Linked DNA regions of Homo sapiens. The protein of the gene in region 1 interacts with the protein of each later gene in a pairwise test. Each region holds a gene or a part of one and is shown in the gene's direction. Other genes may lie near its edges. The genes, in order: TCL1B and AKT2.

What was found.
Region 2: the proteins of TCL1B (region 1) and AKT2 interact in a two-hybrid assay, tested with the Homo sapiens proteins (one study listed by BioGRID).

Annotation. Positions count from the first base shown.
Region 1 is NC_000014.9:95,689,151-95,693,137, forward strand, and holds the end of TCL1B (T-cell leukemia/lymphoma protein 1B), read left to right. Parts: intron 1-1,585; coding exon 1,586-1,756; intron 1,757-2,117; coding exon 2,118-2,171; 3' UTR 2,172-2,186; intron 2,187-2,780; 3' UTR 2,781-3,478; downstream 3,479-3,987. UniProt on the Homo sapiens protein: Enhances the phosphorylation and activation of AKT1 and AKT2.
Region 2 is NC_000019.10:40,233,142-40,240,425, reverse strand, and holds part of AKT2 (RAC-beta serine/threonine-protein kinase), read left to right. Parts: intron 1-315; coding exon 316-381; intron 382-1,452; coding exon 1,453-1,521; intron 1,522-2,334; coding exon 2,335-2,457; intron 2,458-4,040; coding exon 4,041-4,169; intron 4,170-4,321; coding exon 4,322-4,536; intron 4,537-5,075; coding exon 5,076-5,163; intron 5,164-5,278; coding exon 5,279-5,381; intron 5,382-6,474; coding exon 6,475-6,554; 3' UTR 6,555-7,284. UniProt on the Homo sapiens protein: Serine/threonine kinase closely related to AKT1 and AKT3. All 3 enzymes, AKT1, AKT2 and AKT3, are collectively known as AKT kinase.

The DNA of each region.
Region 1 (3,987 bases):
GTGGCAGGCGTCTGTAGTCCCAGCTACTCGGGGGGCTGAGGCAGGAGAATGGCTTGAACCTGGGAGGCAGAGCTTGCAGTGAGCTGAGATCCAGCCACTGCACTCCAGCCTGGGCGACAGAGCAAGACTCCGTCTCAAACAAAACAAAGCAAAACAAAAAAAACAGTTAAGATTTTTTTTTTTTTTAAATGATTCAGTGGAAATAGAATGGATTCTTCAAATAACTTAGCCACGGGTGGGATAAGGGACCTACTTAGTAAGTATTTTTTCCCCTTCTTTCTTAAAAATAGATCGATGTCTTAGGGTGGGAATTAGGCTTCCTGGGCGACACATCTAATGCAAAGATCAGCCACCTTTTTCTGTAAAGGATCTGATGGTAAACATTTTCCACTTGGAGAGCTATGCTCTTGCAGCTACTCAGCTCTGCTATTGCAGTGCAAAAGCAGCTAAAGGCAACGGTAAAGGAATGAGGGAAGGAGCCTTAGTTTATTTACAATAAAGCTTTATTTGCAAAAGCAGATGCAAGCCAGACTTAGTTTGCTGATCTCTGATCTACAGTCAGAATACACAGAGAAGGAGAGATTTTGCCGTATAATTTAAAATACTTCTCTTTGCAAAAGCAGTCCATAAAAAAAGTGAGGACGACAAACTGAGAAAAATTATTCACAACATGTCTGATTGATAGAGCACTAATATTCTTAATTCAAAAAGACATTTTATCACAAAAGAAGACAAATACTTAGAAAATTGTGCAAAAGACTTTCCATTTTGTTGCATAACGTAGGAAGCTTTGGTTTTACTTTTCCTATCATCTTTCTAACTTCCAGTACCAGCCTAATTTTGTTATTTTTATTATTATGTATTTATTTTGAGACAGAGTCTTGCTCTGTCTCCCAGGCTGGAGTGCAGTGACCTGACGATAGCTTACAACAGCCTCTACCTCCCAGGTTCAAGAAATCTTCTCACCTTAGCTTCCCGAGTAGCTGGGACTGTAGGCACATGCCACCATGGCCAGCTAATTTTTTATTTTTTGTAGAGACAGAGTCTCATTATGTTGCCGAGGCTGGTCTTGAACTCGTGGCTTCAAGCAGTCCTCCTGCCTTGGCCTCCCAAAGTGTTGGGATTACAGGCATAAGCCACTGCTCCCAGCCTTATTTCGTATATTTACTATAAGTGTGTGAAGGTCATGATCAGAACTGCCATATATTTTGGCGGGAAAATCTATCACCCTCAGATCCAGAGTCCATGGATATCTTGTTTTTAAAACGAAGATTTAAAAAATTACGGCAATGGCAGAGATGGAGCCCCAAGAGAATACTCAGCTTTAACCCAAGGTGTTGACAGGTTGGAAACAGTGGCTAAATTTGGGGATTGCAGTGGGGCGAGGCAGGGTGCAGGTCAGAGGGGGCCAGAAGGGCCCCAGCCATCCTAGATGGAGCCACAAGTACCAGTGCCAAGGCTCTTGGTCTGGAATTCTGAAAACATTTACCTCTGACCCTGGCAGCCCACTGGCCATTGCTTGTGTGCAGCCCAGTTGGCAGGGAACCCTATCCATGATTTGCCGCCTCTTTTCTGGTCCCTTCAGTATGAACCCAGCATCACAGTGCACTTGTGGCAGATGGCAGTGCATACCCGGGAGCTACTCTCCTCCGGCCAGATGCCCTTCTCCCAGCTGCCCGCCGTGTGGCAGCTCTACCCCGGGAGGAAGTACCGAGCAGCGGATTCCAGTTTCTGGGAAATAGCAGACCATGGCCAGGCAAGTGTGTGGTGGTTCTAGGTGAAAGCGACAGGTGGCCCCTGGTGACTGCCGTGGCCCTCTCTCTTCTGTGCCCCTGGCCCCCTTGGGGTTCTTGTCTGTCCTCTTCCTGTTGCTCAAGTCTTCCTTCAAGGAGGCCTGAGTGTGTGTGGGTGGATCGGTGCATGAGTTCCCATGTGGGATGCAGGCAGAGTGGGTGAGGGAGGGAGGGTTGCCTTCCCTGGGCTAGGGAAATCCACAAGCTGGAGTTCCCACCTGCCTCACCCCTGCCTGCTGCTGCTGCCAGCCTGCATGGGCGGCCGTTAAGGCCAACTGGAAGAGCATCTCCCAGAGGTTCTGATGGCTGCTCCCTCTCCTGCAGATTGACTCTATGGAGCAGCTGGTCCTAACATATCAGCCGGAGAGGAAAGACTGACACTGGGAGTGGCTGGTATGTTGGGGCCCTGTGCGTCTCAGTGTAGGGATCAGACGAAAGTGAGAAGACCTCTCCTCTTTTCAGAAAGACGGCGTGGCCTCCTCCTCCCTGCTGTTTGCTGAGATTTTTCTTACATAGCCACCTGTCACCTCTGTTCCCCAGCCCCTTGGATGTGATGGTACACAGTGGGTGGGCCCCCATAATAAGTTCCTAAAGCATGGGATCTCATCGAATAAGACTCATCATTTAATCCTTGTGAGAATTTTGTGAGGTGTACGTGTTAATGTCCCATTTCACGACGAAAAGACAAGACTCTGGGGATGGGAATGACTTCCTCGAGACCATACAGCCAGGAAATAGCGGTGAATCTAGTGATCTCGGGTCCCTAGATTTAACCATGGCACTGAGGTGCCGTGTGACGGTGGCCTTGGAGGACCCAGCACTGACCCATAGAGGGCTCCTCTCAGATGGGCAGCAGCTTGGAGCAGGCCAGGCAGGGCCTGGGCCATTGGAGGGGCTGGCACTGGACTTGCCTTTGACCCCAGCAGCTTGGATGGGGTGCCGGGCTCCCCCATAGTTCACTGACTGTCTCCTTTGGTCTTCTCGCAGGCCCTGCTGGCCCTGCCTCTTCTGGCCTGGTGTCTCCTCATGCCCCCTCAGTGAGGATCTTCATGTACCTGCTCTTCTGTTTGCACACCCAGCATAGCCTCCTTGCAGGCAGAAGGCAGTAGGGCCCCTGCACACTCAGTTTCTCTCGTTTTCCTTAGTTATCAGTCCTGTCCTGTCCCACTCAGGTCTGTACTTAGGGCAGCTGGCCTGGATGGGCTTCACTGGGGCCCTGTCTGTGTGCTGAGCCAGTTTCCCCTGCTGGCTGCAAGCTGTGGGTTCTTTCTCCTCTGTGCCCCTCATGCTGATCTTCTAGATGCCACTCCCAAATCCCCTTCATACCCACCAGGATGTGTGCCCAGCCAGGCCTCCAGCACCCCCAGTGCAGCTCGTGATTGGAAACTCACCATCGGCAGGCAGTGGTTCGGTTTAAGAGATGGCATTAGAGGGAGCCCAGTCTGGATGTGGACTTGGATGCCCTGTGGGTATCAGTTCTGCTGACACTTTGGCCCGAAATAGATCCAGTGCTGAGCAAGCAATGTACACCAGAGCCTCAGTGAGCCCATCTGCACAGTGGGGAGCATGGAGGGATGGGTTTGGCCTGTGCTTCTGCTTATTCAGTCCTTCAGCTCACGGAAGGGATGCTAGTCCGTGAAGGTGACCTCACAGTACTGGTTAATTAAACTTTATTGCTCACTGTCCACTTTTGTGCTGAATTGGAGCCTCTCTTTGACCTCTTTCTAGCATAGAAATGGCAGCTTCTGGTACCGAAATGTTAAGGTAACATTTTAATGATCCATTTCATATTTTTCCACACTGGGAAGGAAATTGTGATTGGTCCATTCAGCAGCAGGACGTCGGCGGGAGTTAAGGAAGGGGAGGAGACTCGTGCGGGCTCTGGGTGAAGCCCTGCTGTGAAAGGGCAGGAAAGCCCGTAGTGGTCACAGGAGAACCGGGAGCAAGGGAGAGCTCCCAAAGCGAGACAATGCAACAGCATGTCATTGCAGGAGATGCAGAATGCAGGTGCAAGGGAGGAAGGGCCCATGTGTGGGAGAGTATGACATGACAGAGGAGCAGAGTCCTTGAGCAGGGAGGGATGAGGCAGGGGGCCAAGGCACTGAGCAGTGCCACCATTGTGACCAGGAAGAAGAGGACGATACAGTGCAGGTCAGGGTGACCATGCAGTGGTGGCAAGGAGAAGAGATTCCCT
Region 2 (7,284 bases), on another chromosome or scaffold:
GCACCTCGGGGCTCTCGTGATGTCTGTTTGTCTCCCTTGCAGGGACGTCACAGGTGTCTTGTCCCTAGCAGCCTGGTCCTTACATTGTGACATTCCTGCTGACTTTTCACCTGTGGCTTTGAGAGCCACTGATGATCCTCGTCTGGGTCTGCTATTTGCTGAGGGTTTGCAGGCTTTCACTTTTCACTCCTGTGATTTTCTGCATTTATGGCTGGGAATGGAATTGCATTTCACAAGGCCTTGCTCCCCTTCGTCGGGGCGGAGTGGGCAGGTGTGGTGTTGCCCACCAGCCCCTCACCCGCAGTCTGTCTGCAGGATGAAGTCGCTCACACAGTCACCGAGAGCCGGGTCCTCCAGAACACCAGGCACCCGTTCCTCACTGTGAGTTGCCCTCCCCTTCCCAGACAGTGTGAGGCCAGCCTTTGGACAGAGCTCAGAGAGAGAGCCCTAATCTTCTGGTACAAAGCACAGTCTTGGGGTAGGCCAGGCGGGCAGGGCAAGGTGTTGCTGCGCCCTGCCAAGTCATCCGAACCAAGACATGTGGTGGGGGTGAGCAGGCTCGGGGAGTGGGAGGGTGACAGCTTCTTCATAGATGGTGGCTTCATGTAAGCATTTGAACTAACTGAAGATATCACATTATTTGCTGGCTGCTGTCTCTATGAGTTAGGAGCACTTAGCCCAGCTGGTTGAAGTGGAAACATTATTTTTTTTGTTTTTGTTTTCAGATATGCTCATAGAAGCAGATGTGTTAGCATTGTGTTGTCTGTCAGCCTGGACTGAGTAGATGCCTGTTTGGGCTGCAGTCTCCATCAAGGCCAGTGGCCACCAGTTAAATGGACTAGATTGAGGATGGCTTATGTATCATTTCTTTATCTCAGTTGCTGTCCAGGTATCCTATTAAGCCACAGTACTTTTTCAAATAAAATCTTATGAGGTACCTCAGTGCAGAAAACAGAATAGTTGAGTTGTCATGAGCTGAAGGACCCCCTGGTGGGAGTCTCTGAGGAACTCTCTGTAGATCTCCTTAGTGCAGTGGAGAACTACTGTTTGTTGACTGACAGCCTGTCCATCCTGTCATTGAAGTTGGCTCCCAAGCCTTTGCCACTCCCAGCCACAGCAGACATCACTTGTGTGTGTAAGTTGAACACATTTTACTGTAAAAACAAGAGCCATGGTTGCTCAGAACAGCTCTAGTTCTCCCTTGGCTGTGCCTGATGGAGGCAGAGGACAAGATGGTTCAGCATGTAACCCTTTCCTACCGCAGAGCCATGCCTTCACTTAATGCCCCAAAAGGTGCAGCCGGTATGTGAACCCCATATGGCTGACTCCTGGGGGCCCCAGCCAGGGCAGGGTGTGTGTGTGCAGAATAAGCAGGGCCAGGGCCCTGCCCTGGCATGGCTCAGCAGAGCCCTCCTCCCTCCCACCTCCCACCCTGCTGCCTTCATCCCCCAGGCGCTGAAGTATGCCTTCCAGACCCACGACCGCCTGTGCTTTGTGATGGAGTATGCCAACGGGGGTGAGGTGAGCCGCGGCTGCCTTGACTTTGCCCTCTGGGGCCTCCTTCTTTAGGGTGGGGCGGGATGGAGAGGAGCTGTGGGTGAGATGGAAGGGTGGAGGGAAATTTCAGTGTCATCTAGTGCCCCTCTCCCTTGAGGCAGGCGGCTTCGTCTCCATTTTGGGGGGGCAGTCACTGAGGCTCAGAGAGGTTAAGTGGCTTGCCCAAGTTTACACAGCTAGTGAGTGGGTGGGTCAGGTCCAAACCAGTCCAGAGAGGTGTGGAGAGGGCTGTGGGGCGATAGCACTGGGAAGGATGGTCTTAAAGGCCCCAGAGAAAGCCCCCAAGGGTTAAAACCTAGCAGCCCTCCGTTCCCGTGTCCTCTCGAAGTGAATTCCCGCAGCCGCTCAGCTTCCCCTTACAGAGTCGCCTCACTTTTGTCACCCACTCCTTGCCTCGCGCCTTCTCTGTGCAGTGGTTGGCACACCTGCTTTGGGATGCGTGGTTTGCTCATCTGTCTGATCTGGGCTTGCCCATGGCCTATTGTTACTTGGTCATGACGTGTGCTTCTTTTTGCCTCCATGCCATCCTCCCTCCTGTCTCGGATGTCTCTCCCATACCCTCTCATGGGTGCCTCCTGGCAGACCCTCGCCCTTCCCCCCAGCTCTGTGTCACTTATGAGCTTCTGCGCTCTGCCTTGATTGGTCCCTCTAGCTGTCACTTGCTGGTTCATGATACAGGTGTCACCACATCACTGCGCTGGGGCAGGGGGCTGGGAAGGTGAGGGCAGGTGGGTGGGCTGGGGCCTGACCTCCTCTCCCCACCCCTTCCTCCTGCAGCTGTTCTTCCACCTGTCCCGGGAGCGTGTCTTCACAGAGGAGCGGGCCCGGTTTTATGGTGCAGAGATTGTCTCGGCTCTTGAGTACTTGCACTCGCGGGACGTGGTATACCGCGACATCAAGGTTAGTGGCAGGGTGTGCGCCAGGCTGACCTGTGGCATGCACACCACATGGGACTCACACTGGGGAAGTTGGGCTGAGCTTCTGCCCTCATTCGCCAGGCTCCCCACCAAGGTCCAGGGTGGTGGCTGCCCTCATTCGCCAGGCTCCCCACCAAGGTCCAGGGTGGTGGCTGCCCTCATTCACCAGGCTCCCCACCAAGGTCCAGGGTGGTGGCTCTGTGGCAAGTTGCCCCAAGTAGGGACCTTCCCAAGCCTCCCATGAGCGCTCCTAGGCCACTAGCGGAGTGTCAACTGCCACAATACCTACTTTATTTGTATTTATTTATTTATTTATTTTTGAGGAGTCTTACTCTGTTGAGTGCAGTGGTGTGATCTCGGCTCGCTGCAACCTCTGCCTCCCGGGTTCAAGCGATTGTCCTGCCTCAGCCTCCCGAATAGGTGGGATTACAGGTGCCCGCCACCATGCCCAGCTAATTTTTGTATTTTTAGTAGAGACGGGGTTTCATCATATTGGCCAGGCTGGTCTCAAACTCCTGACCTTGTGATCCACCCACCTCAGCCTCCCAAAGTGCTTGGATTACAGGCATGAGCCCCCGCGCCCGGCCAATTTTAGAAGATAGTTTGGCAGTGTCCACCAAAGCTGAGCACCAGTCATCTGCCCTAGCTGTGTGCACAGGAGAAGTGGGGACACACACTCACCTTAGAAAGTGTCCCCCTCACTCAGCAGCAGGACTTACTCTAGCCCCAACTGGAACAACCCAAGTATCCACTGTGAGAGGAACAGTCAGATCCACTGTGGAGTGTTCTCACAGTGGGACGCCACACAGCAGTTAGGAATGAGCTACAGCTACACACGACAGTGTGGACGCGTCTCATAGGCTAATGTCGAGGGAAAGCCGCACAGAGGAGGTGAGTCCACAGTTCACAGGTGTGTCTGTGTGCAGTGGTACAGATGGGAAGTAGAGGTTAATTCTTGTGGGGGATGGTCAGTAACCGGGAGGGGCACACAGGGCCTTCCAGGGGGAGATGCCACCTCAGCCTCGCAAGTAGCTGGGACTATAGGTGTGTGCCACCATGCCTGGCTAATTTTTTTTTTCATATTAAGAAATATGGAGATGGGGTCTCGCTGTGTTGCCCAGGCTGGTCTCAAACTCATGGGTTCAAGCAATCCTGCCACCTAAGTCCCCCAAATTGCTGGGATTACAGGTGTGAGCCACTTTGCCTGGCTGCATATTTCATAATTAAAGGACAGAAAGTCTAGAAAAAAAGAATAGAAGAAAGCTAGTGCCCCCACGTTCGAAATAAGAACCACAGTTCACAATGGGGACGGTGGGTGGACAGGGCCTGGCTCTCGGCTCTCCCTGCCCAGCTGTTCCCAGGTACCATGGGGGTGGGCCAGAGGGTGAGGAGGGTTGGATCTGGCCTCTCTCTGAGCCTCAGAGGGTGAGGCTGTGTGTGCTGGGCCCAGCCTGGCATGGGAGGGTTGATGTCCAGGAGCCCCGGGCATCTTTCCCTGGAAGGAAAGGCTGGGGTGGCAGGAAGCCTTGGGAGCATGCACCTGAGATCCGTTGACTTTTCCAACAGCTGGAAAACCTCATGCTGGACAAAGATGGCCACATCAAGATCACTGACTTTGGCCTCTGCAAAGAGGGCATCAGTGACGGGGCCACCATGAAAACCTTCTGTGGGACCCCGGAGTACCTGGCGCCTGAGGTGTCTGGGGTTGGTGGGGGTAGGAACGTGTGAGGCCAAGGGTAGGGGGATCCCCCAGACCTGTGTGTTTCCAGCCCAGATGCCCTGAGGGCAGGACTGTGATGCCAGCCTCAGGGCCACGGGCCCAGCCCTCATTTCTCCTCCATCCTCAGGTGCTGGAGGACAATGACTATGGCCGGGCCGTGGACTGGTGGGGGCTGGGTGTGGTCATGTACGAGATGATGTGCGGCCGCCTGCCCTTCTACAACCAGGACCACGAGCGCCTCTTCGAGCTCATCCTCATGGAAGAGATCCGCTTCCCGCGCACGCTCAGCCCCGAGGCCAAGTCCCTGCTTGCTGGGCTGCTTAAGAAGGACCCCAAGCAGAGGTGAGGGCTGGCGTCGGCCCCACCCAGCCCAGCGCCAGCTGCTGCCACTGTCCCTGCGGCCTGGAGGGGGCAGCGTCCACAAGGGTGCTCGCTTGTAGGGTCGCAGTGTGTCGTCCCCACACAGCCCCTGAAAACGTCCACAGTGGCACTTAGGGAGTGCTTCCCCCAGGGCAGGCCCATCCTTGACACTGCCTTATTTTATGGGGACACTGAGGAACAGGGCATCCCCTGGGCCTGGCTGGGGCCACCAAACCATATGTGGCAGAGCCAGGATAGGAACGGAGCCTGCCCTACTAACTCCCTTTCTGGACTCAGGGTAAGGCCAGGCAGTGAGGACACGTGGGTCCGGGTTGCTGACTCCCTGGCTCTGACCCTGGGCACGTGAGCTCCCTCCCTGAGCCTCGGTTTCCTCCTCTGTGAAGTGGTTTGTGGTCAAGACAGAATCATTAAGGGCCATACAGGGCCTGCCTGCTCCGAAAGCCCGTCTGCCCGAACCCAGCTGCTCCGGGAGGCAGGTGCTGACGGCCGTCTCTGCACAGGCTTGGTGGGGGGCCCAGCGATGCCAAGGAGGTCATGGAGCACAGGTTCTTCCTCAGCATCAACTGGCAGGACGTGGTCCAGAAGAAGGTGAGCCCCACTGCTTGCCCCAGCAGGACCCTCAGGGACCTGGCCCACTCGTGGTGACCTTGGTTGAGGCCTCCTGGCCTCAGGGTCCCTGAGCCTGAGCTCCTCTCCTCCGTAGCTCCTGCCACCCTTCAAACCTCAGGTCACGTCCGAGGTCGACACAAGGTACTTCGATGATGAATTTACCGCCCAGTCCATCACAATCACACCCCCTGACCGCTGTGAGTGCCTGGGGCCCCCGCGCTGGTGTGCCTGCCCCAGGGGTGGAGGGATGGGATCTGCTCTTAACTCACTTCTCAAGGAGGGCCCTCGAAGGCCCCCGCTTCATGTCTGGGAGATTTCCCCAAGTCTGCTCTCAGGCCCTTTTGCTGTTGGTCCTCTTTGGACCTGGTGAGGCCACCAGGAGCCATTGACTGCAGCACGTTCTGGAGCTCAGTCGGGGGGCTCAGGGCAGGAGGCAGCCCGGTCCCTGAGCCTGGCTGGGTTCACTGCTTTACAGCTGTTTGGGTTCTTACTCTGAACTCAGCCCAGGGCTGGGCTATGCTGGGGACACAGCACTGATTGAGCCAGCCCTGGGCCCTGCCCTGGAAAGCTCCCAGCCCAGGTAGGGTGGGCGGCCTGGAGTGGTCAGGGCTAGGGCGTGGGAGGCCAGGGACTGGGGAATCCCAGAGGAAATATCCGACCTGGCCTGCAGTTAGGGAGGGCTTTCTAGAGGAGGAAGCAAACGTGTCAGCTGGCCGGAGGAATGACGTGTGGGATGCCAGCAATGGGAGAAGCATGGCATAGCTAAGGACCGGCAGCAGCCAGGGAGATGGTGGTGAGAAGAGAGGGCATGGGGCTGGAGTGCAAGGGTCTGGGGGCCACTGGGAGGGGTGGGGACTGCTTGCATGGCGGGAGCCAGCCATGGAAGGGTTTCATACAGAGAGGGACAGGGTTAAAGCAGGCCTTTAGAAAGCCCCCCTGGCTGCCCGTGGAGAATGGATGGGAGGGTGCGAGAGGCAGGCCAGGACAGGGCTCTGGGCTGGACTCTGGCATGGTGGTGTGTGGGGCAGAGAGAAGGTGGGAGGCTCAGAAGGCCCTGCCAGCTGTGGGGCGCATGGGCAAGGGCACAGGAAACTCCCAGAGGAGGCCGCCCGGGGCTCAGGTTTGGGGAGTGGGTCCGTGGCTGAGGGCCTCCATTGCGGAGGGATGGGCCTTTCCTGTCCTGTCCTGTGGGCAGCCCCCGCCAGCTGGGGCCGTTTCCCCAGGGAGTCTGGGCAGGTGTCCCAGGCCCTCTCCTGACTGGTCCTCCCCATCCACCTCTGCCGCCCACAGATGACAGCCTGGGCTTACTGGAGCTGGACCAGCGGACCCACTTCCCCCAGTTCTCCTACTCGGCCAGCATCCGCGAGTGAGCAGTCTGCCCACGCAGAGGACGCACGCTCGCTGCCATCACCGCTGGGTGGTTTTTTCCCCCTAACTTTTTACTTAGCCTTTTTGGTTTGTGTCCCCACCCCCACCTCCTCACCCCCTTTCCAGTTCTTCTTCAGGCCCCTCCCAGACGCACCCCAGCGGCCCCTGCAGCCCCTGCCTCCAGCCTCCAGCCTCACCTTTGTGCCCAGACTCGCATTTGGAAGACTCCACCTCCCGCCCAGGCCTGGGCTGTTGGGCGGTTGGAGATTCAGGTTTTAATCCACACAAGCCCCAGTGAGGGGTGAAGCATGGCGCCTGGGGCCTGCCTGAGTTTCTGGCCTGGGTGTCGTGCTGGTGTCTGCCTCCGCGCTGCTGCATCTGGACGAAGGCTGCCTTCTGGTGGGACGCGACACCCGGCAGACAGTGGTGCTGCCTTCCAGGCCCCGTGGCCTAGGCTCGGAGTGGCCAGGCACGGGGCGGTCCAATCCCCCACCCGCTGTCCCCCTATGGGGGCAGAAAAGCAATAATGTCCAGGGGCAGGCAGGGGCCCTTGGGAGCTGCAGGGCTGGGGGTTAGGGCTGCTCCCTGGTGAATGGAGTCAGATCCTAGGATCTGTACCATGGGGAACCAGGAGTGGCCGGGCTGGGTGCCGCCTCCTGGTCCGGCCTCCTCCCCACCAAACTGTCCTCACCCTATGGATGAGGCAGGAGGAACATTTGGGGCCAAACCTGC